Linked DNA regions of Homo sapiens. The protein of the gene in region 1 purifies or fractionates together with the protein of each later gene. This does not show direct contact. Each region holds a gene or a part of one and is shown in the gene's direction. Other genes may lie near its edges.

Evidence for each region. The genes of interacting proteins can lie anywhere in the genome.
Region 2: the proteins of FGF3 (region 1) and RBM19 purify together in Homo sapiens (affinity purification with mass spectrometry; 2 studies listed by BioGRID and IntAct, with this or other methods). This does not show direct contact.
Region 3: the proteins of FGF3 (region 1) and NUCB1 purify together in Homo sapiens (affinity purification with mass spectrometry; 2 studies listed by BioGRID and IntAct, with this or other methods). This does not show direct contact.

The regions. Positions count from the first base shown.
Region 1 is NC_000011.10:69,807,797-69,816,416, reverse strand, and holds the end of FGF3 (fibroblast growth factor 3 precursor), read left to right. Parts: coding exon 1-97; intron 98-5,716; coding exon 5,717-6,112; 3' UTR 6,113-6,449; downstream 6,450-8,620. UniProt on the Homo sapiens protein: Plays an important role in the regulation of embryonic development, cell proliferation, and cell differentiation. Required for normal ear development.
Region 2 is NC_000012.12:113,963,326-113,971,717, reverse strand, and holds the start of RBM19 (probable RNA-binding protein 19), read left to right. Parts: upstream 1-5,392; 5' UTR 5,393-5,490; coding exon 5,491-5,526; intron 5,527-8,392. UniProt on the Homo sapiens protein: Plays a role in embryo pre-implantation development.
Region 3 is NC_000019.10:48,916,476-48,923,872, forward strand, and holds the end of NUCB1 (nucleobindin-1 precursor), read left to right. Parts: intron 1-2,228; exon of another isoform or gene 2,229-2,250; coding exon 2,251-2,309; exon of another isoform or gene 2,310-2,416; intron 2,417-2,554; coding exon 2,555-2,647; intron 2,648-2,718; coding exon 2,719-2,811; intron 2,812-4,678; coding exon 4,679-4,849; intron 4,850-5,351; coding exon 5,352-5,457; intron 5,458-5,842; coding exon 5,843-5,949; 3' UTR 5,950-6,897; downstream 6,898-7,397. UniProt on the Homo sapiens protein: Major calcium-binding protein of the Golgi which may have a role in calcium homeostasis. Acts as a non-receptor guanine nucleotide exchange factor which binds to and activates alpha subunits of guanine nucleotide-binding proteins (G proteins).

The DNA.
Region 1 (8,620 bases):
GGAGATAACGGCAGTGGAGGTGGGCATTGTGGCCATCAGGGGTCTCTTCTCCGGGCGGTACCTGGCCATGAACAAGAGGGGACGACTCTATGCTTCGGTGAGTCCAGGCTGTCACGTGGGTGGGCGCTGACGGAGTAGCGGTCTGGCCTGCACATCAAGCCAGGGGACGGGGGATGTGGGCAGTAGAATGCTTTGCCAAGGGTACACGGGACCCAAGCTAGGACCAGACCCTGGCCCAGGGCTCCACGCCCAGTGATCTTTGGCTGTGTCTGTTAGAGGCTGCTCCGCGAGTGACCTGGAGCCTGGCCCTGGGGGACCTGGGATCTGGAGAATGCCAGGTTAGCAAAGGTTTCCCCCATCCTTGTCATCACTACCACCCTCCCTTGAGAGTAGCTGAGAGCAGGGAAGTGATTGTTCTCCAAATTTCCACCAAAATAAATGGACCCAAGACAACCTGGGAGTGTTCCTTGGGGCAGCCAGAGCTCTCCTGGGAGCATGGAGAGGAGGACGCTGGCCCAGCTCCACCGGCTCTCTCCAAGGGTGGAAAGGCGAGAGCTGAAGCCTAGGAGGGGAAGGGGGATGGCGCCCATGTCCCGGGCACACAGGAGCCTTGGAGCCCTGGCTTGGGACCCAGTCTATCTACTGCCTGGGCCTCCGTGTAACCAAAAAGGGTCTCCTTACTCTGTGGGTATGGCAGCGCCCCTCTTCATAAGGGGTAGGGGTGGGGAATACACAGAGTAAAATACATGTCACAGGGAAATTTGCTACCTCCAACTAGTCATTACATGCAATTTGGCTGATACTTCCTTGGGCAATGAGAGGTTTTCCATCCATGAGTAGCCTGGCTGACGCGGCCCAAGGACAATCTCCCTGCAGTGAGCTCTCTGCTCAGTCCTGCTCACAGAGGACACATCCCGCAGCTCCCTCTCGCAGAAGCTGATGATTTCATCACAGATTTTTAGCCGTTTTGCTAAAGGAAGGTCCAGAAAGCCGGGATGCGCCCCTTCATTTTCTCTGGTCCAGAGGCTACTCCCTCCTTCCTCCCATCCACTCACCCATCCACCCATCCACCCATTCACCCATCCACTCATCCACCCATCCACCCATCCATCCATCCACTCATCCACCCATCCACCCATCCATCCATCCACCTATCCATCCATCCATCCACCCATCCACCCATCCTTCCATTTACCCATCCACCATCCACCTATCCATCCATCCATCCACCCATCCACCCATCCACCCATTTACCCATCCACCCATCCACCCATCCACCTATCCATCCATCCATCCATCCATCCATCCACCTATCCACCCATCCACTCATCCACTCACCCATCCACCTATCCACCCACCCACTCACCCATCCATCCACCCACCCACTCACCCATCCATCCATACACCTATCCATCTGACATTCAGTCCATTCATCAGTCAGTGTCCTGGAAGCTGTGTCTGGGAGCAGGGGCCCTCATGGTGCCAGCTTCTGCCATAGGGGAGCCAGGATTTGGAGAGACAGAATAAAGCATGACATGAGGGGGTCCCAGTGGTTCAGAGCCCACCTGGGGCTTCCGTGCCTGAGAACTCACAGCCTGGCTTTGAGAAGGGTGGACAGAGGCTCCTAGCCCCACCAGGGATGCTTAGCCAAGCAGTCTGGCTGGAGGGTGTGGAACTTTCCAGAGTGCCCAGTGGAGAAGTTCCCATTGCCCTGCAGACAACCTGGGAGGCATAGTAGCCTGGATGCCAACTCCGTCACCTGCCACCTGCCACCTGATACCACAGTCCTGCGTGCGGCCAGCTTGCCTAGGAGTGCTGTCCCACCACGGGGCTCCCTGGACTTTGCCGGCAGCATGCTTGCCCTCAGGCCAGCTCATCTCACTGTGGGCCAGTGAGCACTGCACCCTGACACTCCTGGTCTGGCCCTGACCTCCCTTCTGAGGTATAGACCACCCTCCCCCAACATCCTGCTGACTCAGACACTCGAACCGAACTCAGCAGCTCCCCGACTCCCCATCTTAATCATCGCCCCACCAGCCACTCACTCTCACCCAGAGTGGGCTGGGAGTCATGGTAGACCCCTCCTGCTATTCAGTCCATCCCTAGTCCTCAGACCACGCCCCTGCATCTCTTCAGCCCACACACCTCACCTCCCTCTGCCTCATCCCTGAGAGCACGCCTTAAAAGGCAGGCTCATCACTTCCCACCTGGATCACTGCTCCAGCCTCTCCTACCTCCAGTCCATCTGTTTGTCAAGCCATCCATCCATCTTCCTTCCTTCTTTCCCCTTCCTTTATTCTCTTCACCCATCTGTCCATACACCTCTCCTTCCTTCCTTCTTTCCTTTCTCTCATCCTTCTTTCCATCCATCCTTCCAACCGTTCATCTGTCCATCTGCCCATTCACATGTCCATCCGTCCATGCTCCCTCCTTCCTTCCATCCTTTCACCCATCCACCCATCCACCCATCCACCCATCAACCCATCCACCAATCCATCCAGCAATCCACCCATCCATCCAGCCATCCACCCATCCATCCATCCACCTATCCATCCATCCACCCATCCATCCAACCAGCCATCCACCCATCCACCCATCCACCCATCCACCCATCCATCCATCCATCCATCCATCCATCCATCCATCCACCCATCCACCCATCCATCCATCCAGCCATCCACCCATCCATCCATCCACCTATCCATCCATCCACCTATCCATCCATCCACCCATCCATCCATCCAGCCATCCACCCATCCATCCATCCACCCATCCACCCATCCATCCATCCATCCATCCACCCATCCATCCATCCATCCACCCACCCATCTATCCATCCATCCATCCACCCATCCATCCATCCATCCACCCACCCATCTGACATTCAGTCCTTCGTTCACCAGTCAGTGTCCTGGGCACTTACCATGTGTTGCACTCTGCTAGTGCATGTTAAAGGGGCTTCCTAAAAAAGCAAATCAGCCCAGTTCATGGCTTCTGAGGACTCCCATGATGCGCAGGCATCCCCCAGGCACCTTAGCTCCACCCACAGAGCAGCAGCCCAGGTGCCATCTGCTCCCAGGGGGGCTGTCATCCAGAGGTTGAGCCTCCTCCGGCTTCCGGAAGCCCCCTCAACTCTCCAAGCCATCTGTACTGCTCAGGCCACACCTTCACTGCCTGGAACGCCCTCCTCCAGAAAATGCCCATGAGAAAGTGCCCGCCCCGCCCTTACAGCTCCCTTTAGAAGTCACCTCCTCAACAAAGCAGCTTCGGAGTCGGCTTCCTCCCCACCCTTCATGGGGTGGAAGCGGCCCTGGGGGAGGGGCCTGTGGAACCAGGTCTGGTGGGGCGGCAGTGTCAGGACACACATTGGAAAGTGTTGTCACAGCGAGTCCCAACTGCAGTAGCTCTGGAGTCTATGGCCCTGGCCCCTGAGCCAACACCTTCTGCCCTGGTCATCTTGGCCACCCCAGGTGCCCTACCACGTGTCAGCAATTGATCTACACTGCCCCCAATCTCCCACCTTGGGAGAGCCTGAGCCCCCTGCCACCTGAGGCTCACAGGCACCTGTCCTTCAGTGACCCACCCCTCAAGTGGCCCCCCAAAGAGAAAGCCTATTTCCTGGCCTCTCTGGCCCTGAGAGGACTCACCTGCTGCAGGATCGAGGGACCTGGGAGAAGCTTGGGTCCTGCCCTGAGCTTCTCACAGTCTGCCATGGGAGCCAGACACTAACATGGTGTACCCAGTGTGTGGGGTGGGGAAGTCGGCCCTGAGCCCACCCGCTCATTCCCAGATAGTCGCTGAGCCCCAGGCTATGTGGGGGTCAGGCACAGATCAGACACTGTTCTATCCCCTGTAATGTAGGGCCTGGCACCACCCCTGGGCCTCAGTTTCCCCATCTATAAACATGGAGACCGGTCTTGGATAGTAACATCCAGACTGTGGCCCAGGGGGCACTGGGCCTCCAAGAGGGCTGGAGAGCAGGGGGGCTTGGGGTTATGGGGAGAGGCAGCCCCTACCACCAGGTCAAGCCTTCCACCCTTCCCTGCTCTGGGCTTTCATGTCGCTGAAAAACAGGATGGGGTGCTTGAAGCATCTTGTTCCCTGAGGTCCTGCGAGGTCAGATGCTGCTCGGTCCAGTCTGGGAGCCTCTGGAGGCCATTTCCACTCTCTCTCTCTGCCACGGGACACCACACCCCAGATGGGGACAGACCATGAGGGCCTCCGACTCCTCCCTGCGGCCAGTCCCCAGGAGGAAAGAGAGATCCTGCTGTCTGCCTTGCACCTGCTGCTTCCACCTCCCACCACCCTTTCTGGTTTGGAGGGAGCAGCTCCTGTCAGTCATCCCCTGAGGGAGGTGGCCCTAGGCATTACCACTTGCCTGTAGCTGGGACTGAAGCCTAGTGGGTCTGCATAAGGCATACCCACCTCTTCCCTACGCCACAGACTAAGAAGACCCCATGAGGCAGCCCTTGAGGGAAACTCCCACGGCCAAGTCTTGGGGATGTTGGTGTAAGCTCCTTCAGTTCAGAGCTTCACTGTGCCTTTGAGAGGGCAGGGTCCCTTCTGCCCTTCCCCCACTGCACCCTGGGCCTGACAAGGGTCCCATTAATCTCTGATGACAAAGAGGTGTCCTCTCTGTCCTGCTTGTGGTGGGACACCCCAGCTTCTGCTCTCATCCTAAGAACAGCAGTATCTGTGGCACTGATTGATCATGTGCCTCATGCCAGGCCCCAGCCCCTGCTCTGTGTTGTAACCTCTTCAACCTGCAAGGCGAGATCCTCCAGCTTAAGAGAGTGTTGCTCAGGGGTCAATGACCCCAGCTGGGGCCCCTGAGCGCAGCGTTTAATGGAGAGTCTGGGCTCATCAAACCTGGCTGTGTCCCCTTCCCTTCCTGCTTTTTGTGTTCTTTCTTCTTTTTTCTTTTCTGCAATTTCTTTTTTTTTCTTTTCTTTTTTTTTTTTTTTTTGAGTCAGAGTTTTGCTCTTGTCGCCCAGACTGGAGTGCAGTGGCACAATCTCTGCTCACTGCAACCTCTGCCTCCCGGGTTCAAGTGATTCTCCTGCCTAAGCCTCCCAAGTAGCTGGGATTGTGGGCGCACGCCACCACACCCGGCTAATTTTTTTGTATTTTTAGTAGAGACGGGGTTTTGCCATGTTGCCCAGGCTGGTCTCGAACTCCTGACCTCAGGTGATTCACCTGCCTCGGCCTCCCAAACTGCTGGGATTACAGGCATGAGCCACCGTGCCCAGCCTCTGCAATTTCTTTAAAAGAGATCTGGGTGTTGTCATCTTCCTTTGTCCAAATGCCCAGTCCTTGCTGACCTCCACACTGCCAGCAGACTGCCAGGGCACCTGGGTTGGCCGGCCTGGTCTCTGCTCCACAGACAACCCTACACATCCCTTTGCTGTGTCAGCGCCCTCAGATGGGGGACAGAGGCTGGTGGAACCCAGAGAGCAGGAGCTGGGAGTTGTCTGGCACAGCTTTGAGTGAAGGTGACCTTTAGGCAGAAGGCCAAGTTCACCAGGCACACAGGGGAGGAAGGACATGCTGGGCAGAGGGCAGGGCCTAGGCAAAGGTGTGACTGGCTGAGAGTGCGCTGGGGTTTGGCACTGGACCGAACAGCCTCACAGGAGGGGAGGGAGGCATCAGGCAACCCTGGGCCCTGACGCTGCCACAGTCTCCCCGGGGCACTGACCATGATATCTCATCCCCGCAGGAGCACTACAGCGCCGAGTGCGAGTTTGTGGAGCGGATCCACGAGCTGGGCTATAATACGTATGCCTCCCGGCTGTACCGGACGGTGTCTAGTACGCCTGGGGCCCGCCGGCAGCCCAGCGCCGAGAGACTGTGGTACGTGTCTGTGAACGGCAAGGGCCGGCCCCGCAGGGGCTTCAAGACCCGCCGCACACAGAAGTCCTCCCTGTTCCTGCCCCGCGTGCTGGACCACAGGGACCACGAGATGGTGCGGCAGCTACAGAGTGGGCTGCCCAGACCCCCTGGTAAGGGGGTCCAGCCCCGACGGCGGCGGCAGAAGCAGAGCCCGGATAACCTGGAGCCCTCTCACGTTCAGGCTTCGAGACTGGGCTCCCAGCTGGAGGCCAGTGCGCACTAGCTGGGCCTGGTGGCCACCGCCAGAGCTCCTGGCGACATCTTGGCGTGGCAGCCTCTTGACTCTGACTCTCCTCCTTGAGCCCTTGCCCCTGCGTCCCGCGTCTGGGTTCTCAGCTATTTCCAGAGCCAGCTCAAATCAGGGTCCAGTGGGAACTGAAGAGGGCCCAAGTCGGAGCTCGGAGGGGGCTGCCTGCAATGCAGGGCATTTGTGGGTCTGTGTGGCAGGAAGCCGGCAGGGAAGGGCCTGAGTGCCAGCCCTGGCAGACTGAGGAGCCTCCCAGGAGCAGCGGGGCAGTGTGGGGCTTTGTGTCATCACAACATTAAAGTATTTTATTCTACTCTGTCGTTTGGTAGACCGTGATGCAGGCTGAGGAGCGCTTGCCGCCTTTACTGGAACGTGCTTGCTTCCAGCACAGCAGAATCCGCGCTGGCATCAGCCTGCGTCAGCTGCTGCTTTAAGAGGAAGACGGCATTCCCAGAAATCGGGCTAAAGGTGCATTTCAGTTCCCTGGTTTTAGAAAGTTACGTTTTTTTGGATGGTTGGAAACAAGCAAAGGCATGTTTGTGCATGTGTGTGCATCGTGTGTGTGTGCGTGGAGAGAAGGATCGTGTATTTCTGAAAGCGTGAGTGTGCATGTGGGTATGTGTGATCTTGTGTTAGTGGTACCTGTGTGAGGACATGTATGTGTGTGTGTGTTTCTGGGTGTGTCTGAATGTGTGATGTGTGTGTGTCTGTGTGTGTGTGTGTGTGTGTGTGTGTGTGTGTGTGTGTGGAGAGAGAGAGAGAGAGTTTACTTTCTTTGAAAACTCTAAAAAGCCTCTCCCTCTGGAAGCTGTGTGCTTCTCCAGGGACCCTTTAGAGCAACTGTGTCAGGTCAGGCAGCACAGAAACTTCCTTTATCCTTACAACCTGCTCTTGGGGCCCGTGCACCCTGTCTTTACCTAAGAAGGTGAGGCTCAGAGAAGCAATTACTCAGTGGCCGGGCCCTGCCTTGGACTAGGTGCCTCCTCACACCTGTTCCCCAACAATGGCATGGGTGGAATCACCTGGGCCGGCCCAGGTGAGAGCCAGCATGGGCAGTGTACTAACCTCTCCTGGCACTTGGCAGGATGGGCAGGGTCCAGGTGAGGAGGCTCTCCTGAGCCTGGGACTGTGAGGACCATCGCTCTCTGTTCCCATGCCCTCCCAGGGGTCAGAGAGCCCAGACTCAGAGAGCCCAGGGTCAGAGAACTTAGGGTCAGAGAGGCCAGAGTCAGAGAGCTGAGACTCAGAGAGCCCAGGGTCAGAGTGTCCAGGGCCAGAGAGCTTGTGGTCACAGAGCCCAGACTCAGAGAGCCCAGACTCAGAGCCACCTGATTGGTTAGTGCAGACTCGCCAAACCCACAGGGAGGCTGGGCTCCTCCCTGGCACGTGTGCAACACAAGTGAAAATCTCGGTGCCTCCTTCAGCCCCCAGCGCATGTCAGATTTCCCGGAATGGCTCCCCTGCAGCTGCGAACATTCCTGGCAGTCAACAGGAGCAGCACGCAGCTGAGCTCTGCTGTGGGTTTTGTTGTTTCTCTAGAGTGAGATGGGGCAGGGGCTGCCATCACTCCCTCCTTGCAGATGATGACCCTGAGTCCTGGCAAGGGGAACTTGCCCGGGGCTGTGTCAACACAGGGGAAGCAGCAGTACTCAGTGCTGCAGGATCAACAGATGGTCCCTGATGAAGGCGTAGGAGACACTGGGGGCTCTTGTTTAACATGTAAAACAGCTTTGACAAGAGAATGTGGATTTTTCGCAGCTGATGGCTGTGCCATGGTCACCTTCTTCCCCACACCAGAGTCCAAGGGACTTCATTTTGTGTGTGTGTTTGGGGGGTCATGGGCTGAATTATGTCTCCTCCCCAGAGTTCATCTGTTGAAGTCCTAACCCCTAGTAACTCAGCATGTGACCTTATTTGGAATAGGGTCATTACAGATGCAACTGGTGAAGATGAGGTAACATAGGAGTAGAATGACCCCTGAATCCATTGTGACCAGGATCCTCCTTAAGAGACACATGGGCACAGCCGTGCACACAGGAGGACGCCATGAGAGCGTAAAGGTGGGGACAAGGGTGATGCTGCTACAAGCCAAGGAGTGCCAAAGTTTGCCAGCAAACACCAGCAGCTAAAGGACAAGAAAGGAACAGACTCTGCCCTATAGCCCTGAGAAGGAGCCAACTCTGCCGACACCCCAGTCTTGGACATCCAGCCCAGAGTCCTGCAGATGATAAATGTCTGTTTGAGCCACCTACCCTGTGTGGGGCTGTGTTACCACAGCTTGAGCATCAGGCACAGAGGGCAAGGGGCCTGCTGGCCTCCAAAAGGAGAGCGACCCCGCTTCTGCTGGATGAGGGGAAGGGGAGAGAAGGCGGGCCCCAGGCTGAGAGCGTGGGCTCCCTGGGAGGGGTCAGAGGGTGCCCGCTGCTTCCGGTGCCACGGTGGGAACTCCTGCTTCCTTACACACAGGAGGGGCTGGGGGCAGGT
Region 2 (8,392 bases), on another chromosome or scaffold:
CTGTTGTTTGAAGCCATCCAGTTTCTGGTAATTTGATATAGAAGCCCTAGAAAATCAATACACCCCATAATCCTGTAACTTAAAACTATAGCTCATGGGGTGGCTTCCTGGTTTTGTAAATAAAGTTTTATTGGAACACGGCCACAGATGTTAGCTCTGGATGTGTTCAAAATACAGTAGCAGGATGCAGAAGTTGCATTAGAGACCACATAGTGAAATACTCTCTGACTTTTTAAGAAAAAGTTTGCCAATCTCTGATTTAAAACATATACAGACCGGGCATGGTGGCGTGCACCTGTGATCCCAGCACTTTGGGAGGCCAAAGCGAGAGGATCACTTGAGCCCAGAAATTTGAGACCAGCCTGGGCAACAAAGCCAGACCCTGTCTCTACAAAAAATTTAAAAATTAGCTGGGTGTGGTAATGCATGCATGTAGTCCCACCCACTTCGGAGGCTGAGGAAGGAGGATCACTTGTGCTCAGGAGATCAAGGCAGCAGTAAGGCCTGATCACACCACAGCACTCCAGTCTGGGCAACAGAGCAAGACCTTGTCTCAAAAAAAAAAAAAAAAAAAAAAAAAAGGCCAGACACAGTCACTCATGCCTGTAATCCAAGCACTTTGGGAGGCCAAGGCAGGTGGATCACTTGAGGTCTGGAATTTGAGACCAGCCTGGCCAACACAGTGAAACCCATCTGTAATAAAAATACAAACAATTAGCCAGGCACGGTGGTGTGCACCTATAATCCCAGTTACCGTCTCAAAAAAAAAAAAAGACAAAACCCAAAATAAATACATAAAGATTTACTGGGCTCCCTACAATTTCACCCCTCCAAAGCCATCCTGCAGAAATGCCCACAATTAATATACATGCTTGTTGACTTTACCCTATGGTTAAGTATAAATATATGCAGATGTAGTTTATACATGATTAACATTTTAATGTATTAAAAATAATAGGTAATTTTTTCATAATGAAATATCAAAATTATAAAAGGTTACTCAAGGTAAAGGACATTTCCATCCATCCGTATACTCACTTCCTCGGTCCCCTCCCCAGAAGCAACTGCTGTTACCACTTCCTCATGTATCTTTTGAGATCGCCTTTGCTTACATAAATCATATATAGTGTCCCCTCCAAATTCCTATGTTGGAGTCTTAACTTTTCATACCTCACAAAGTGATGTTATTTGGAAATAGAGTGTTTACAGAGGTAACTATATTAAAATGAGGTCATTAGAATTAGCTTTAATCCAATGTCTTTTAAAATGGGGAAGTTTGAACATGAACTCATGGACACAGGGAGACTGTCATGTGGAGATGAAGGCTGAGATCGGGGTGACATGTCTACAGGCCAAAGAGTGTCAAAGATTGCCAGCACACCACCAGAAGTGAGACAGGGAGGAACAGATTCAACCTCACGGCTCTCAGAAGGAACCGGCGCTGCCAACACCTTCATCTCGAACTTCTAGCCTTCAGAACTGCAAGACAATACATTTGGAAATTTACGACTACCCTGGCCTACAAACATGACAAGTATCTATGTATCCTCACCCATCTCCCTCCTTTTTTTGTGTGTGTGTTTTGTTTTTACCTAAGTGAAAGCATACATAATACATTATTTAGTATATTGCTGGTTTTCACTTAACAATATATTTTGGAGATTGTCCCATGTCCCATGTGCTAGTTCTTCTCTAACAGCCCATCTCCCATTCCCTGAGCCTGCTCCTCCACTTTGCTCTGTGCCCCAGATGCAATCTGTGTGCACTGCAACATCTGTGATCATGCCTCCAGCTTCCCATTGGTTCGGCCAAGGGGAGGCTCCAGTAGGAAACTGCAGTTGGGAAGAGAAAGAGGGGACAGTGTATTTATCCCCGACACACACACACCTGTGGTTCCACAGTGGCTGTATCTCTCTATAGCTCTAGTCCTTAAAGTACGTCCCTCTTCCATGGCTCCTGGCATCACTGAAGCTCAGGAATGACATGTCCTACTCTGCCCTTCAGCCCCAGGGGTGGTGATAGCTCCCCACTGTTGCCAGGCCCTGGGGTTTGGCCATCCTTTGTTGGTTCCCTTAACCCTTCCTGTATTCATTTGCTGCAGGTGCTGTCTCAAATTACCACAAATTAGATGGCATAACAATGCAAAGTTATTCTCTCACATTTCTGGAGGCCAGAATCCCCCAAAGCACCAGCAGGGCCATGCTCCCTCCAAAACCTCCAAGGGAGAACGCTTCCTTGCTTCTTTCAGCTTCTGGTGGCTCCAGGTCTTCGTTGACTTGTGACTGCATCACTCCAGACTCTACCTCCACCTACACATGACGTTCTCTGTGTGTCCTTTAAAAGGACATGTGTCATTGGATTTAGGGTCTACCAGGATAATTCAGGATGATCTCATTTTGAGACCCTTAAGTACATTTGCAAAGACCCTTGATATGGTTTGGCTGTGTCCCCACCAAATCTCATCTTGAATTGTAGCTCCCATAATCCCCACGTGTCCTGGGAGGGACCCAGTGGGAGATAATTGAATTATGGGGGTGGTTTCCCCATACTGTTTTCGTGGTAGTGAATAAGTCTCACGAGATCTGATGGTTTTATAAGGGGAAAGCCTTTCACTTGGTTCTCATTCTCTCTTTGCCTGCCACCAGGTAAGACATCCCTTGCTCTTCCACCATGATTGTGAGGCCTCCCCAGCCATGTGGAACTGTGAGTCCATTAAATCTCTTTCCTTTATAAATTACCCAGTCTCAGGTATGTCTTCATTAGCAGCGTGAGAACAAACTAATACAACACTTTTTTGCAAATAAAGTCACATTTACAGCTTCCAGGGGTCAGGATGCCCCCAGTGTGTGTGGTGGTGAGGGGACAGGGGATCATTCATCCCACTACACTGCCCACCCTTCTGTAAATAGCTTTTTGTCCAGATTTGCTTTTGTTAAATCCTTTTGAGTATACCTCTGTGTCCTGCTGACTGATGCATTTCCTTCAAAAACATTTATAGCTACATACCTACCGTTTTTTAACAACTGCATAGAATTCTGTTGAATGGACAGACCTTAATTTACAATTAGCATTTAATGAACTCCTATTACCTGTCTCCTCCTGGTGCCCAGTGTGATGCTTTGCAAAGATGGATCTAAGGATGCCCCTATGGCAACATAATGTAGAAAGAACAAGTGGCCTCATCTATAACTCTGAACCTACACTGTGCGCTCCTCACCAGCGAGTTCTGTAGGTTTATGCTGTGGCAGATGCATGAGCTCCCTGCATTTGGGGCTCAGTAGGAAAGAGGCATATTCGAGGATGCCATGTTTGAGCTGGTCTTAGAGAGGGGATGGGAATGGGTTCAGAAAGATATTCCAGTGGCCAAAAGCACATGAAAGATGCTGTTTCATTAGTTATCGGGGAAATGCAAATCAAAACATTGAGTCACCACTGTACACCCACTAGAGTGGCTATGATTATAAAGACCCAATAACAAACACTGGAGGAGATGTGGAGATATTTGAACCTTCATATACCGCTGGTAGGAATATAAAATGGGGAAGCCACTTTGGATAACAGGTTAGCAGGTTCTAAAAAGGTTAAGCATAGAGTTACCATATGATCAGGCAATCCTACTCCTAGGAATATATCCAAGAGAAATAAGAACATATGCCCACACAGGAACTTACAGGTAAATGTTCACGGCAAGATTATTCACAGTAGCCACAAAGCGGAAACAACCCAAATGTCCATCATCAACTGATGAATAAATAAAATGTAATACATCCATATATGTAATACTATTCAGCAAAAAAAGTGTGGTGGCTCACGTCTGTAATCCCAGCACTTTGAAAGTTCAAGGCAGGTGGATTGCTTGAGCCCAGGAGTTCAAGACCAGCCTGGGCAACATGTTGAAACCTCGCCTCTACCAAAAAATTACCAAAAAAAAAAAATTAGCCAGGCATGGTGGCATGTGCCTGTAGTCCCAGCTGCTCAGGAGGCTGAGGTGGGAGGATGGCTTGAGCCTGGGAGGCGGAGGTTGCAGTGAGCTGAGATTGTGCCACTGCACTCCAGTCGGGGTGACAGAGCCCGACCCTGTCTCAAATAAATAAACAGATAAATAAAGTGCTGATTCATGCTGCAACATGGAAGAACTTTGAAAACATTATGCTAAGTGAAAGAAGTCAATTACAAAAGACTACATATTGTATTATTCCATTTACATGAAATGTCCATAACAGACAAATCCATAGAGACGGAAAGTAGATTAGTGGTTATCAGAGGGAAGGGAGAGGGAGGAATTGGAAGGTTATAGCTAAAGGGTGTGGTGTTTCTTTGGGGGTAATGAAAATGTCCTAGCATTGATTGTGGTGATGGCTGCACACCTCTGTAAATATAGTCAGCACCATTGAATTGTGCACTTTAAGTGGGTGAATTGCATGGTTTGTGATAAAGCTGTTAACAATAAGAAGGGGGGACGGAATGTCTTTTAGGTGAAGGAAATTGCAGAAGCTTGGCAGCAACGTCCAGTGCAGCTGAGGCACTGTGGGGAAACAGAAAGGAAATACCGTCATTTAAGAGTGAAAATAGGGGTTTTCATAGGATGTCTCCATCCAAGAGTAGGTACCGAGAATGCTCAGAGAAGCAATAGGAAAATAACATCCCTTTCACGTTCTCACCTCCTTAACCCCTAGCATAATAAAGAATTATTCCCATTTTATAGAAGTAGACACAAAGGCTCAGAGGCCATTTTGGCCAAGATCTCTCAGCTAGAAGATTGGCCAGCTGAGAGTTCCAAACATTAGGAAGGGAGGCAAAATGCTTGTGGGGCTGGGGTTGAAGGCGTAGAGACTCATTGTAGGGCCCTAGGCAGTCCCTAGCTCGAATCTGACTTTCCAATTCATAGTTATAAGACTTTGAGCAAGCTGCTTTACACGCACGATTCCCAGTTTATCTGCCTGCAAAATGAGAGCGTTTATTTCCAACATGTTCATTCCAAGTATTTACACAAAAGGCTCAATACTTGATTTGTGTTGGCTGGCAATCTCTCTAAACTTCACTTTCCCCATTTCTACGAGGAAGGCAAGGGTCCCTAATCTTGCCCCCGTTCTCAGGGGAGTCCTAAGGCTCAATAATAAAAATAAAATAAGAAAAAGGAGAGAACGCGATTGCCCGGTTGGCGCGACCCTTAACACCGAGCTAAACCGGCGCATGTTAGGGACCGGCGCCCCCTGCCGCCTTCTCCGCTGCATTGGCGTCTCACAGAATCCGCCCAAGGCCCTGCGCCTGCGCAAAATGCAAGCGCCCAGGCCCACCCCTTGTGGGGTGTGACCTCCCTGAGTAGTTTTGGATTAGCCACGCCTACTTCCGGACAGGTCAGGCCAAGGTCTCAGCCACGTGACTGTGTTCCGGCTCGGTAAAGATGGCGGCGCCCAGGGCGGTAGCGTGAAACTTGGTGGAAGACGCTGACCAGTCGTGTTGGAATCAAAACAGCGGGGACCCTGCGCCATGTCGCGACTGATCGTGAAGAATCTCCCGAATGGGGTGAGTGCAGAGGCAGGACTTGGGAATCTGAAATGAGACCAGCCGGGAGCTGTGAGGTAGGGAAGAGATGCCTGGAGGTGATCGAAGAATTTTTGCTCTGGGGCAGGACTCCGGGCCAATTCTGAACTCAAAGGGGGCGGGATCCTGGGCTTATCCCCATTTGATCCCGAGGAAAGAGGAATAGTGACTGCTTACGGTTTCACGGCCGGTTGTTTGGTACCTGACTCCTAACACACCTCTTCTCGGGGAGATGACAACTCCCACCTTGTGGCGAATACCCTGCTCCCACAACCTCTTTCATTCGATCACTGTTTTTTAGTTGTTGACCCGGGACATGGTCCGACACTGTATTTATATTCCTCTCCCAGTCTGGAAACTGTTGGGGAAGACATGGGGAATATTAATCTGCGGACCTGCGTTCCAATTCCCACTCCCATCCTTAGGGCAAGTAGGAATACGGAGTGGGTAAAGGGCTTTACAGCATTTATCCAGTAAGTGGGGAGTGGTGACCCAGCCATACTTTTTTGTTTCCCTGGAGCCCAGCGCAGAACCCGACACGTGGTAGGCAAAATAGGTGAATGTACGTAATATTAGATGATTAGATGCGGTGGGCTCGAATGGATCATCCTTTTTTCTCTCTCTCGCTGTTTTTTGTTCTGTTTTGTTTTTTTGTTTTTAAATGGATTACTGCTCCTTCCATCAGGTTAGACAGTGTCTCTTGATGCCTCGCTTTGTGGGATGAGGATTTTTAGCGTAGCTGCACTTCCTTTCCCTCCCAAATTCAGCTTTGTTGTGTTTCAAGTGTAGTTGATTCTCTTATCATTGTTTGTCTTATCTCTTTTTTTTCTCTCTCTTTCATGGCTTTTTTTGGTTTTGTTTTTTGTTTTTTTCTTTTTTTGTTTTTTTTTTTTAAACGGAGTCTGGCTCTGTCTCCCAGGCTGGACTGCGGTGGAGCAATCTCGGCAGTCTCGGCTCACTGCAACTTTTGCCTCCCGGGTTCTAGCGATGCTCCTGCCTCAGCCTCCCAAGTAGCTGGGACTACAGACACGCGCCACCAAGCCCGACTAATTTTTTTATTTTTAGTAGAGACATGGGGTTTCGCCATGTTGGACAAGTTGGTCTCGAACTCCTGACCTCAGGTGATCCACCGCCTCGGCCTCCCAAAGTGCTGGGATTACAGGCGTGAGCCACTGCACCTGGCCCCCATTTCTGTTCTAATGTTGTGAGTTTTTTCCTTTCCTTTTTTTTTTTTCATTTGTCAGGTGGGACAAAGGAACTTTGTAACACACAGTTTTCAAAATTCAAACAGTATAGTAGTGTATAACATGAGTAGCAAAGTCTTTGCTCTGTCCTACCTTCCCTCTCTGTCCAGGAGTAACCATCTTCATTGATTTGTTTTTGGGACTCCTCACATGTATCTCTGTATATTTGAGGAGTGTACTTTCCTCCTTTTGACCTGCCTGCCCCAGTGACTATCTGCTAGGCCTCAACTGTGAAAAATAAGGAATTTAGATCATCTGTTCCTCCTCTCCAGTGTCTGTAATATTCTTGTTTTTAATTATCCTGTTATAATCTCTGAGTAGTATACTTAAAAATATCTATTACTCATCCATCCATCAGGTTAGACATGTCTCTTGATGCCTTGCTTTGTGCGATGAGGATTTTTAGCGTGGCTGCACTTCCTTTTCTTCCCAAATTCAGCTTTGTTGCACTTCACAGTGTAGTTGACTCTCTTATCATTGTTTGTCTTATCTCATGAATGAAAGAATAATAAAAACAAGGGCAGTTGCAGCTGACACTTGGAGAGTTTACTGTGTGCCAGGCACTGTTCCAGGTGCTTTAGGTAAAGTAACATTTAATCCTCACCATATCCCTGTGAGGTAAGTTTTATTTTTACGCCCATTTTAAAGGTAAAGAAACCAAGATACAGCGAGGTACAGGGATTTGCCTGAGGTCACACACTGGTGTAATTTATAGAGCAGGGATTGAATTGAGCAATCTTTAGTTTAGGGATTGAATTGAGGAAATAATTAGTAGTGAGTACTTGTGATATTGCTGACACTGTAGATAGAGGTGGATAAGCCTGTGTCCTTATTTTTAATGGGACTTGCAGGCTAGCAGAAAAGAGAGGCACCAGATCATTACGATGCAAGGTGCATCACTGACATGTGAACCGAGTGCTGTGGGAGCACAGTGAGGGTTGGTTATCTCGTCCATCTAAGGCATCTAAGAAAGGCCTCCTGGAATAGGAGATGATTGAACTGAGAATGAGGAGTTAGCCAGGGCCTGTCTTGGGAAATATCACCCAGAGGGGACAACCAAAGTAAAACCTCGGAAGTGAGAAGGCTGTGAGAAATTTGTCAAAGCGTGGTGCTGAAGAGGTTGGTCAGGGCAGATCTTGAAGAATTGCATGTTTTCCTTTAGGTGCTCGTCCTTGAGACTTTGGTGCCAGAAAGTCACCGAAAGGTTTTTGGCAAAGGAATGATGGATTCAGACTTGAGCCAGGTCTCTCCCAGGCACTGAGGAATTGAATTCACTGTCTTATATTTCTGAATTGAGTCACAAACCTTGATTCTGTAGGCCTTGGGCAGATCATTTATCCCTTATGAGTTTCATTTTCTCTATAAAATGTGGACAAAAATTCCTAACTCACAGTGTGATTGAGATTTTGATTAGATCAGTTAGTAAGAAGCTACCTCAGAAAATGTCATCTTCTGGCTGGACTGCCAAGGCCTCTAGCTTCTTGCATTTTCAAACTTATTTTGGCTGTTCGTGGGGCCCTGAATGTCCCCTCAACTCCACTACCACACACACAAATATCCCAGTATCTGCTTAGAAAACTGAGTTGTGAGGGTAGCCTGGCTGC
Region 3 (7,397 bases), on another chromosome or scaffold:
TGGGTGTGGTGGCGTGCATCTGTAGTCCCAGCTCCTTGGGAGGCAGAGGTGGGAGGATCACTTGAGTCCAGGAATTCAAGGCTGCAGTGAGCTATGATCATACCAGTGCCCTCCAGCCTGGGCAACAGAGTGAAACCCTGTCTCTAAAAAATAGAAAATAGGCTGGGCTCAGTGGCTCACGCCTGTAGTCCCAGCACTTTCGGAGGCCAAGGCAGGCAGATCAGGAGCTCAAGAGATCGAGACCATCCTGGCCAACATAGTGAAACCCCGTCTCTACTAAAAATACAAAAATTATCTGGGCATGGTGGCACGCACCTGCAGTCCCAGCTACTCAGGAGGCTGAGGCAGGAGAATCACTTAAACCCTGGAGGTGGAGGTTGCAGTGAGCTGAGATCATGCCACTGCACTCCAGCCTGGCAACAGAGCGAGACTCTGTCTCAAAAATAAATAAACAAATAAATAGGCCCGGCGCAGTGGCTTACCCCTATAATCCCAGCACTTTGCGAAGCCAAGGCGGCTGGATCCCTTGAGACCAGGAGTTCAAGACCAGCCTGGGCAACATGGCAAAACCCCATCTCTATGAAAACAAATACAAAAATTAGCTGGGTGTGGTGGCGTGCATCTGTAGTCCCAGCTACTTGGGAGGCTGAGGTGGGAGGATCACTTGAGCCGAGGAGTTCAAGGCTTCAGTGAGCTACGATCACACCATTGCACTCCAGCCTGGGTGACAGAGTGAGACCCTGTCTCTAAAAAATAAAAAAATAAAAACCTTATTTAATCTTTTTAATCAGGCAGTCCCTACAGACCAGAATAGGTTCAGAGCAACTCCCTATACCTTTTTTTATTTTTCATTTTTTTTATTTTTAGAGATGGGGCTTCCCTTTGTCACCCAGGCTGGAGTGCAGTGGCGTGATCATGGCTCACTGCAACCCAGACCTCCTGGGCTCAAGTGATTCTTCCACCTCAACCCTTAGAGTAGCTGGGATCATAGGTGCACACCACCATGCCCAGCCAATTTTTAAATTTTTTTTTTCTTTTTGAGGCAGAGTCTTGCTCTGTTGCCCAGGCTGGAGTGCAATGGCATGATCTTGGCACACTGCAACCCCCGCCTCCCAGGTTCAAGCTATTCTCCTGCCTCAGCCTCCTGAGTAGCTGGGGTTACAGGCACTTGGCATTATGCCTGGCTAATTTTTGTATTTTTGTAGAGACGGGGTTTTACTATGCTGGCCAGGCTGGTCTTGAACTCCTGACTTCAGGTGATCCTCCTGCCTCGGCCTCCCAAAGTGCTGGGATTACAGGCGTGAGCCACCGCACCCGGCCCAATTTTTTACTTTTTTTTTTTTTTTTGTAGAGACGGGGTCTAGCCATCTTTTCTAAGCTGGTCTCGAACTTAATGTGCTCAAATGATCTTGCCTTAGCCTTCCAAAGTACTGGGATTACAGGCATGAGCCCCTAAATTTGGCCCCTACATTTTCTTTAATCTTAATCAATTTACATTTAAACAGCCCATGTGGCTAGCGGCTACTGTACTGGACAGCGCAGATCCAGAGTTTAGGCAGAGAAGAGACCCCCAGGCCTGAGCCCTGGGCCACACTAGCATGTGGAGGTCAGGAAGAGGATGGAGCCGTCAAAGGAGGTGGAGGGGCAGCCAGAGAGGACAGAATCATGTTCTGGAAGCCAAGGGCAGAAAGTCAAGTCAGATGCAGGTGGAAATTAACCACTGGATTTGCAAGATGAGGGTTCCTGGCCTCCTCCTCAGGAGGAAGGTTGTGCTTGTCTGAGGGAGCCGAGGAAGGAGGGCCGGTGGTGAGGACAGGAAGTGTGGCTGACCGAGCCTGAAGCCCTGCAGCTGTGGGGTCTACGTTGGTAGGAGAGGCTCCCCTCACAACTGGAGTCGGCACTGGCCTGGTTGTCTGGGAGGCAGAGGTCCCTGATAACCCTGGAGCTGACTCTGTGTCCAGAGCACTGAATGCCAGGGCCAGAGAATCCTGCATGACAGTGACCCAAGCATGTTTCCTCGAACCCTCCCTTTGATCTATTCCATTCTCAACCCCCTGGTCGCTAGGCAGTGGCCCTAGCAACGGGTCTAGTGGGGTACTAAAGCCTGGGGGCCACCGTTCCACCGCGGGAGACCCGTAGTTACCTGTCCTCTGATAACAGACCCCACATCAGCCCAAAATTTCTTCACCAGGGACCTTACACATCCCGTCCTCGGTCCCCTGAGATACCTTGCTATCCTCTTCCCTTCAGATATCAACAGTGATGGTGTCCTGGATGAGCAGGAGCTGGAGGCACTCTTCACCAAGGAGGTGAGCATCTTGGAAGCCTCGGGCACCTGGAGGGACGCCCAAATCAGCCACTTGTTTCCTCCTGCAGTCCCCTTAAATCCCCCTGGATGGGAGCTCAGTGAAAACTACAACTCCCATCAGCCCCTGGGGCAAAAACGGCTCCCAGGAGTGGTAGCGTGCCCAAAGGACTGCTGGGAGTTGAAGTTGTCGGGAATGAGCTCGCTGGGGACCTCTCAATGCTGTCTGCCTCTCGCTTGCTCCTGCAGCTGGAGAAAGTGTACGACCCAAAGAATGAGGAGGACGACATGCGGGAGATGGAGGAGGAGCGACTGCGCATGCGGGAGCATGTGATGAAGAATGTGAGGTGGGGGCCAGGCGGGGGAGAGGACGGGCCCCCAGCTCTGTCACTCACCCTTATCTGGCTCCCCAGGTGGACACCAACCAGGACCGCCTCGTGACCCTGGAGGAGTTCCTCGCATCCACTCAGAGGAAGGAGTTTGGGGACACCGGGGAGGGCTGGGAGGTGAGAACATGGGGGATACTCGGGGTCCTGAACCTCTCTCTCTTCTAGCCATGACCTTTCTTTCAGAATCTTAGGCCCCTTCTCTTTCTCTCTGGGTCCCCGTCCATTCTCCTGGGTCACTGCATCTCTATCTCTGGGTCTCTGTTTTCCCCTGTCTCTAGGACTCTTATTTATTTATTTATTTATTTATTTATTTATTTATTTATTCTGAGACGGAGTCTCACTCCATCGCCCAGGCTGCAGTGCAGTGGCACGATCTCGGCTCACTGCAGCCTCCACCTCCCAGGTTCAAGCAATTCTCCTGGCTCATCCTCTTGAGTAGCTGGGATTATAGGTGCGTGCCACCACACCCAGCTGATTTTTGTATTTTTAGTAGAGGCAGGATTTCACCATGTTGGCCAGGCTGGTCTCAAACTCCTGACCTCAGGTTATCCACCCACCTTGGCCTCCCAAAGTGCTGGGATTAGAGGTGTGATTTTTTTTTTTTTTTTTTTTTTTCTGAAACAGGGTCTTGCTCTGTCGCGTAGGCTGGAGCCCAGTGGTGGGATCTCGGCTCACTGCAACCTCCGCCTCTTGGATTCAAGCGATCCTCCCATCTCAGCCTCATGAGTAGCTGGGATTACAGGCGTGAGCCACCATGCCTGGCTAATTTTTGTATTTTTTGTAGAGATGGGGTTTTGCCATATCGGCCAGGCTGCTCTAGAACTGCTGGACTCAAGCGATCCACCTGACCTGGCCTCCCTAAGTGGTGGGATTACAGGCATGCACCACCGCACCACACCTAGCTAATTTTTGTATTTTTTGGTAGAGACAGGGTTTTGCATGTTGGCCAGGCTGCTCTGAAACTCCTGGACTCAAGCTATCCACCCTTCTCAGCCTCCCAAAGTGCTGGGATTACCCAGGCTGGAGTGCAGGGGTGTTATCATGGCCCACTGCAGCCTCAAACTCCTGTCCTCAAGTGATCCTCCTGCCTGAGCCTCCCTATTAGCTGGGACTACAGGCACATGCCAGCATGCCTAGCTAATCTAGCTCATTCTTTTATTTATTTATTAATATTTTTTGAGACAGGGTCTCCTGTCACCCAGGCTGGAGTGCAGTGGTGTAATCATAGTTCACTGCAGCCTTGAATTCCTGGGCTCAGGTGATCCTCCTTCCTTAGCCTCCTGAGTAACTGGGACTACAGGCACATACCACCATGCCCAGCTAATCTAGGTCTCTGTTTTATTTATTTATTTATTTGTTTGTTTATTTTTCAATACAGAGTTTTGCTCTTGTTGCCCAGGCTGTAGTGCAATGGTGCATTCTCAGCTCATTGCAACCTCCACCTCCCAGGTTCAAGCAATTCTCCTGCCTCAGCCTCCTGAGTAGCTGGGATTATATGCATGTACCACCATGCCCTGCTCATTTTGTATTTTTAGTAGAGACGGGGTTTCTCCATGTTGGTCAGGCTCATCTCAAACTACTGACCTCAGGTGAGCCACCCACCTCGGCCTCCGAAAGTGCTGGGATTACAGGTGTGAGCCATGGTGCCTGGCCTATTTCTATATATTTTTCAAGATGCCCAGCCAATTTTCTGTAGAGACAGGGTCTCGCTCCGTTGCCCAGGCTGACCTTGAACTCCTGGCGTCAAGTGATCCTTCCCACTTTCGCCTCCCAAAGTCCTGGGATTACAGGTGGGAGCCATGGTGCCCGGCCTTGTCTCTCGGTCTTTATCCCACTCCCACCTCCCACTTGGGCTTCTTTGCCCACCCACATGGCCCTGGCCTCCCAGCCTCCTCTACACCTCCCCCATTGGCACAACCCTCTCCAACATGGGTGGGCCGAGGTTGGACCTGTGCCCCTGATGGCCCCTGTGCCTGCCCTGCAGACAGTGGAGATGCACCCTGCCTACACCGAGGAAGAGCTGAGGCGCTTTGAAGAGGAGCTGGCTGCCCGGGAGGCAGAGCTGAATGCCAAGGCCCAGCGCCTCAGCCAGGAGACAGAGGCTCTAGGGCGGTCCCAGGGCCGCCTGGAGGCCCAGAAGAGAGAGCTGCAGCAGGTGACAGCGGGGGAAGCTGCTTCCATCCACTGAATCTCTGGCTGCCCGTGTCCGTGTCCCCATGGGTGTCCAGAAGCTGGGAAGGCCTGTGGCCACCATGTTAATCACTGGGGGAGCCTCAAGTATTCACCGCCATCTTGAGTAAGGGCAGACGTTTTCCCGTCTCTGACGGCTCTGTGGCTGCCATGTGAGATAAGGGCATTAAGGCTGTAAGTGAGGAGGGAAAGGCCCAGGAGGGGGAGAAAGGCAGACTCAGCCAGGGATGGGTGAGGGTTTCCCTGTCCCAAAGCAAGACCCAAGCTGTGACTGGAGGGAGAACTGGATCCTTGACTATTATTAAGCCCGACTGTCAATGAAAGAGAGAAACTGAGGCCCACGGAGAAGGGGTTGGCCGTGACCACTTAGCAGGCTGCTGTGAAGTCTCCGTTTGGGGACTGAGGCCTGAGCACTTGCAATGCCAGCATCACACCCTCTTGTCTGTGTGACCCCCCACCTCCCACAGGCTGTGCTGCACATGGAGCAGCGGAAGCAGCAGCAGCAGCAGCAGCAAGGCCACAAGGCCCCGGCTGCCCACCCTGAGGGGCAGCTCAAGTTCCACCCAGACACAGGTGCTGGCCCTAGTCCAGGGAGGAGGGGCTGCAGGGCTGGACCCCTGGGTCTGAGGTTGGAGGGGCTGGGCCTGGACTCCCAGATCTGAGGGAAGAGGGACTGGGGGCCCAGACTCCCAGATCTGAGGGAAGAGGGACTGGGGGTCCGGACTCCTGGGTCTGAGGGAGGAGGGGCTGGGGGCTGGGACCCCTGGGTGTGAGGGAGGAGGGGCTGGGACCCCTGGGTGTGAGTGAGGAGGGGCTGGGGGCTGGACCCCTGGGTGTGAGGGAGGAGGGGCTGGGGGCTGGACCCCTGGGTGTGAGGGAGGAGGGGCTGGGCCTCTGGGGTCCTGGGGGAGGAGGGGTTCGGATGTCCTGTGCCACCATTCCCTCCCTCCATTTCCAGACGATGTACCTGTCCCAGCTCCAGCCGGTGACCAGAAGGAGGTGGACACTTCAGAAAAGAAACTTCTCGAGCGGCTCCCTGAGGTTGAGGTGCCCCAGCATCTGTGATCCTCCGGGACCCCAGCCCTCAGGATTCCTGATGCTCCAAGGCGACTGATGGGCGCTGGATGAAGTGGCACAGTCAGCTTCCCTGGGGGCTGGTGTCATGTTGGGCTCCTGGGGCGGGGGCACGGCCTGGCATTTCACGCATTGCTGCCACCCCAGGTCCACCTGTCTCCACTTTCACAGCCTCCAAGTCTGTGGCTCTTCCCTTCTGTCCTCCGAGGGGCTTGCCTTCTCTCGTGTCCAGTGAGGTGCTCAGTGATCGGCTTAACTTAGAGAAGCCCGCCCCCTCCCCTTCTCCGTCTGTCCCAAGAGGGTCTGCTCTGAGCCTGCGTTCCTAGGTGGCTCGGCCTCAGCTGCCTGGGTTGTGGCCGCCCTAGCATCCTGTATGCCCACAGCTACTGGAATCCCCGCTGCTGCTCCGGGCCAAGCTTCTGGTTGATTAATGAGGGCATGGGGTGGTCCCTCAAGACCTTCCCCTACCTTTTGTGGAACCAGTGATGCCTCAAAGACAGTGTCCCCTCCACAGCTGGGTGCCAGGGGCAGGGGATCCTCAGTATAGCCGGTGAACCCTGATACCAGGAGCCTGGGCCTCCCTGAACCCCTGGCTTCCAGCCATCTCATCGCCAGCCTCCTCCTGGACCTCTTGGCCCCCAGCCCCTTCCCCACACAGCCCCAGAAGGGTCCCAGAGCTGACCCCACTCCAGGACCTAGGCCCAGCCCCTCAGCCTCATCTGGAGCCCCTGAAGACCAGTCCCACCCACCTTTCTGGCCTCATCTGACACTGCTCCGCATCCTGCTGTGTGTCCTGTTCCATGTTCCGGTTCCATCCAAATACACTTTCTGGAACAAATGCATGGCTCCATGCCTGTGTATCTGGACTGGTCCCTCCAAAACGCTATTGCCACGTCACCTGCCGGAGTCCTCATCTTTGAAGACTGGATTCAAGCATCACTTCTGAGAGGCTCAATCCTGGTATTTTTCCATCTGCCCCTGATGAGTCTGCAGCCTTCACTCAGGGTCCCTTCAGCCACAAGGACAGAAAACCCAAACCTGGGATTAAGCAATTTTTTTTTTTTTTTTTTTTGAGATGGAGTCTTACTCTGTCACCCAGGCTGGAGGGCAGTGGTGTAATCTCAGCTCACTGCAACCTCTGCCTTTTGGGATCAAGCGATTCTCCTGCCTCCGCCTCCCGAGTAGCTGGGATTACAGCTGCCTGCCACCACGCCCGGCCTTCTAATTTTTGCATTGTTTTAGTAGTGATGGGGGTTTCACCATATTGGCCAGGCTGGTCTTGAACTCCTGACATCATGATCTGCCCACCTTAGCCTCCCAAAGTGCTGGGATTACAGGAGTGAGCCACTGCACCTGGCCGGGATTAAGCAACTTTTAAAAGATGAATTTGGCCAGGTGCTGTGGCTCACGCCTGTAATCCCAACACTTCGAAAGGCCAA